Linked DNA regions of Homo sapiens: region 1 is linked to region 2. A link means that fine-mapping ties the variant in region 2 to the expression of a gene that starts in the linked region. Tissue or cell type: esophagus muscle. Region 2 holds a variant in brackets; the other region holds the start of a gene. All regions are shown on one strand. Distances are from middle to middle.

The links. PIP is the estimated chance that this variant, and not a neighbour inherited with it, causes the effect.
Region 1: NOP56 starts here. The variant in region 2 is fine-mapped to the expression of NOP56 in esophagus muscle (GTEx, PIP 0.97).

What each region holds. Positions count from the first base shown.
Region 1 is chr20:2,651,619-2,654,118 of GRCh38, forward strand. NOP56 (NOP56 ribonucleoprotein) reads left to right here and starts at 1,014. Exons shown (of 12, transcript NM_006392.4): 1 at 1,014-1,045; 2 at 1,224-1,313; 3 at 1,661-1,775. The coding sequence starts at 1,043. It overlaps MIR1292 (microRNA 1292), which reads left to right and starts at 1,159; the gene lies at 1,159-1,224. It overlaps LOC105372505 (a long non-coding RNA gene), which reads right to left and starts at 846. Exons shown (of 5, transcript XR_007067502.1): 1 at 742-846. RefSeq lists a silencer at 498-1,137 and an enhancer at 1,638-1,727.
Region 2 is chr20:2,673,465-2,676,217 of GRCh38, forward strand. The region is part of intron 2 of LOC105372507 (a long non-coding RNA gene); the gene reads right to left. Among named protein-coding and RNA genes, the nearest start is that of IDH3B-DT, 11 kb to the left of the region's middle. The variant T/C (reference allele first, on the strand shown) is at 1,129.

The DNA.
Region 1 (2,500 bases), 22 kb before region 2:
GTATAAATGCAGTTTATAGCTATACATTATTTTTAAAAATCCCCTTCGAATGACTCTTTAAAACATACCAGGGGATACGCTACTTAAGTATAACTAGGTTTTGGATTTATAACGTTAATATTAATTATTAAAGCAAAACTCATTTCTAAAGAGTCGCCTGAGTGCCCAAAAGACGCCCTCAAGGACAGGGAAGCAGCTGCGATTCACTCAGCGATCACCAGCGCCCAGAATTCAGGGCCGCCCAAGCGGAGGAGCAACACGTGGCCCAGCAAAAGGAGCTGGGTCCCGTGCAGCACAGCAACAAGAAACTGGCCTAGGAAGACGCTGGAGCGTCTTTCTTTCGCACGTTACTGCCTGCTACAGTCATTTAAAAAAAAAAAACCAAAAACAAAAAAAAGAAATAAATTAATAGTACGAAGAAAACTGCGCGAGCTACATTCCCAGCAGGGTCTGCGCCAGAGCGCGCCAGGCACCGCTCCCGTTACGGGTGGGAGGAAAGGATGCACCGCCCACCCGGCGCCGGGGAGGCTCGTCCCCGAGTAGGGGACGGGAACGCCTGGGTCCCGGGGACGTGGGGCGCAGGGTCTGGGGCCCGAGGCCACGGACGAAGCGGGAAGCCGGCTAGGCAGCGGTCTCTGTCTGGGATGGACGCCGCGCCCCACGCGGACCTCCCGCCCCGACTTCACCCAGCTCTGCTGCCCGTAACTCATATGACAAGAACATCAGGAACCGGACTATTACCCCGAAAGGGCCTTCCCAAGTCGTTTCGCCGCCTGCAGTGCCCGACCGGGGGCCGCGCGTCCCCGGCAACCACGCCCGCCCGCGCAGCTGCAGAGGCCGGAAAAGGCCCGCTCGCCCGCGCTCGGCACCACCCAGCCCGCGCTCCGGGCGATACCACCCTGGGCGGCCCCTCCAAAGGCCGGAGATGGTGTCGTCCCCGGCCTCCGATTGGTCGGGGGGGCGGGGGCGTGGCCTCTGGAGCCTGGTTCCGCGCGCCGGAGCGCGCTAGCCGCATTGCGAGCCGAACCCGGGAGCTGGCGCCATGGTGAGGAGTGGTTGCGGGGCGCGGGCGACGCGACGGTGGGGGTTTCGGCCTGCGTTCGGGCCGCAGACAGGGCCTGGGCCTGGGCCTGGGCCTGCGCCTGCGCCTGCGCCTGCCCTGGGAACGGGTTCCGGCAGACGCTGAGGTTGCGTTGACGCTCGCGCCCCGGCTCCCGTTCCAGGTGCTGTTGCACGTGCTGTTTGAGCACGCGGTCGGCTACGCGCTGCTGGCGCTGAAGGAAGTGGAGGAGATCAGTCTGCTGCAGCCGCAGGTGGGTGAGATCCGTGGGCTCCTTTGGCGGCCCCGCAGACCCTCATCGCGCGGGTCCCAGCATGCACAGCGCGCTCCCACGTGGCCGGCCGAGCGGTTCGGGGCGGGGGGACGGGCCTGGAAAGCTCTAGATCCGGGGGTCTTTACCTTGACCCATGGGTAGAATCGCTCTAGCAATTAGAAATAAGCCTCCCGGACGCCGCCCCCGAACGATTAAAGCAGAAGCTGGGATGTGGGGCCCAGGTATCAGCATATTTTAAGAGCTTCCAAGGCTGAGAACCGCTGCTTGACTGCGCCGCAGAGGCAGGAGGGAGGGAAGGAAACCACTTAGCCTCTTTCTCCCCCCAGGTGGAGGAGTCTGTGCTCAACCTGGGCAAATTCCACAGCATCGTTCGTCTGGTGGCCTTTTGTCCCTTTGCCTCATCCCAGGTTGCCTTGGAAAATGCCAACGCCGTGTCTGAAGGTAAGTCGGCCACCGCCAAGTGTCACAGAGAGATGTGGTTCCTTTCGGTATCCTCTCGGGCAGCTTGTGATAGTATTTGCCGTCCTTGGCTGGCTCTGAGTCTGATAGGCGTGAGGCAGTATTTGAGCCATACAATGTGTAATTTGAAATAATTGTCTTCACAGAGCTCAAGGTCTGGGAACTGTGCTAGACCAAACTGTTTAAGCAGACGATGTGGAATGTGTGTTAACGTTTCCTTGTGGGCACTGTAGTGACAAACTATTTTTTATTTTTATTTTTTTTGAGATGGAGTCTGTCCCCCAGGCTGGAGTGCAGTGGCAAGATCTGGGCTCACTGCAACCTCTGCCTCCCTGGTTCAGGCGATTCTCCTGCCTCAGCCTCCCGAGTAACTGGGATTACAGGCCTGTGCCAGCCACCACACCCGGCTAATTTTGTATTTTTGGTAGAGACGGGGTTTCACCATGTTGGCCAGGCTAGTCTCCATCTCCTGACCTCGTGATCCGCCCGCCTCGACCTCCCAAGGTGCTGAGGTTGCAGGCGCGAGCGACGGTGCCCGGCCGACAAAGGGGGGTTTCTTAAAGGGGGTCGGCTTAACACCTACTTGTGCCTGAGGTTTTGCCTAAACACAATCAAGTGTCTGGTTCTCTGCTTTCTGTTCGATTGGAAAGGGCAGTTGGGTAAACACAGGCTGAGAAAAAAAGGTTTGGTTCCAGAAGGCAAATTCT
Region 2 (2,753 bases):
ACCCTGAAGCCAGGGGCCAAGGAGAAATAAAAGCCTCCTAGCTGCACCCTGTGAGCTAGCCTGAGCTCCCGGCAGCTGTTGCTTTTGCTCCTGATGTGCACACACTAAACACCTTGGTTTGTTTTCCCAGAAGGTAAAAAATCCCCCAAGTTCAACTGATAGGCTTTGAGCAAAGTTTGCAGTGGAAGAAGGCAAATTAAGTAACGCTCCATGTGGGGCCCTTGGGCCAATTCAGTGGCTTTCACTGCAAATGTATTACTGGTATTGATGCTCATACCGGCCTGTACTGCCAATGCCCATAAGTGTCAGATGGGATTCGCCCTTTCAGAGACTGCCACATGTGGAAAGGTGGTTTCTGAACCCTCTTAGATGGTCCAGGAGAAACAGTTTAGACTTTCAAGAGGGAGGCCAGGTGCAGTGGCTCATGCCTGTAATCCCAGCATTTTGGGAGGCTGAGGCTGGGAGATGACGAGGTCAGGTGTTTGAGACCAGCCTGGCCAACATGGTGAAACCTGGTCTCTACTAAAAATACAAAAAGTAGCCGGCCGTGGTGGCGGGCGCCTGTGATCCCAGCTACTCAGGAGGCTGAGGTAGAAGAATCGCTTCAACCCAGGAGGAAGAGGTTGTAGTGAGCCGAGATCGTGCCACTGCATTCCAGCCTGGGCGACAGAGCAAGACTCCATCTGAAAAAAAAAAAAAAAAAATCAGGAAGGAAAAGGGAAATCTGAAAATTAGTCTCAAAGGTGGCCAGATTACTCAGAGGCTGTTCTCAAGCACAATAGCACCACCTGCCTGACACACTCACCAAGCACATAGCTTTAAAAAAATTGTTTAGAGGCCAGGTGCAGTGGCTCACGCCTGTAATCCCAGCACTTTGGGAGGCCGAGGCAGGTGGTTCACCTGAGGTCAGGAGTTCAAGACCAGCCTGACCAATATGGTGAAACCCTGTCTCTACTAAAAATACAAAAATTAGCCGGGCATGATGGCATGCGCCTGTAGTCTCAGCTACTCCGGAGGCTGAGATAGGAGAATTGCTTGAGCCCAGGAGGCGGAGGTTGTGGTGAGCTGAGATCACGTCACTGCGTTCCAGCCTGGGTGACAGCGAGACTCGGCCTAAAAAAAAAAAAA[T/C]TGTTTAGAGAGTGGTTGCTGATCTGTCACCCAGGCTAGAGTGCAGTGACACCATCAGAGCCCCCTGCAGTCTTGAATTCCTGGGCTCAAGCCATCCTCTCACCTCACTGTCCTGAGCAGCTGGAACGACAACTGTGAGCTACCATGCCCGGCTAATTTTACAAAATTTTTCATAGACGTGGTCTCTCAGGCTGGTCTTAAACTCCTTGCCCTCAGGTGATCCTTCCATCCCACCACACCTGGCCCCATCCCTCCCCCATCCCCCTTTTTTGTTTGAGACAGTCTCTCTCTGTCGCCCAGGCTGGAATGCAGTGGCACAATCACAGCTCATTGCAGCCTGGAACTCCTGGGCTCAAGCAATCCTCCCCACTCAGCCTCCTGAGTAGCTTGGTGCCTGCCACCACGTACCATGCCAGCTAATTTTAAAAATACATTTTTGTAGAGATGAGATCTTGCTTTGTTCCCAAGGCTGGTCTTGAACTCCTGGCTTCAAGTGATCCTCCCTCCATAATCCCAAAGCCCTGGGACTACAGGCCTGAGCCACCACATCCGGCCCCATCCCCTCTTTTTTATTTTATTTTATTTTATTTTATTTTATTTTATTTTATTTTACTTTATTTTATTAAGACAGAGTCTTGCTCTGTCTCCCCGGCTGCCAGGCTGGAGTGCAGTGGCATGATCTCAGCTCACTGCAACCTCCACCTCCCAGGTTCAAGCTATTCTCCTGCCTCAGCTTCCCGAGTAACTGGGACTACAGGCATGCGCAACCACACCTGGCTTTTTTGTTTGGTGGTTGTTTTTAAGTAGAGACAGAGTTTCACCATGTTGGCCAGGCTGATCTTGAACTCCTGACCTCAAGCGACCTGCCCTCCTCGGCCTCTCAAAGTGCTGGGATTACAGGCATGAAACACCATGCCAGGCCCCCATCCCCTTTTTAAAAAGGTGCCCACTAACTTGTTACTGACCCAAAAAGTTCCTGTGACTCTCCAAACTGACACTCCCATTTTGGGATGGGTCAACTTGGATTTGGTGGCTACTAAGGGAGGGGCACAAAAGGCATTATTAATCCAATGGAAATACTGTATTCAGTAACACAGCTGGCCTGGTCCTAATATTAGCTGGGTTTTACATGAAAAAGTGGCAGCAAAAATCCCTTCAGGGGAAATCTTTTCCTAACTTCACCACTTGAAGCAAAGCTGCTGGCTCAATGGGGCCCTCAAGTCACAGAGGGTTCCCTAGGCACCTGGCCTGGTACAATGATGGTTTGGCTAGGCTGACACCTTATAGTGTCCACGTTCAACCTCAGCACCAGCTATGCAGAACCAAAAACAGGCATGGGCTGGGCGTGGTGGCTCACGCCTGTAATCCCAGCACTTTGGGAGGCCGAGGCGGGTGGATCACTTGAGGTCAGGAGTTCCAGATCAGCCTGGTCAACGTGGTGAAACCCCGTCTCTACTAAAAATACAAAAATTAGCCGGGCGTGGTGGCGTGCATCTGTAATCCCAGCTACTTGGGAGGCTAGGGGAAGAGAATTGCTTGAACTCAGGAGGCGGAGGTTGCAGTGAGCCGAGATCGCGCCATTGCACTCCAGTCTAGGCAACAGAGCGAGACTCCATCTCAAATTT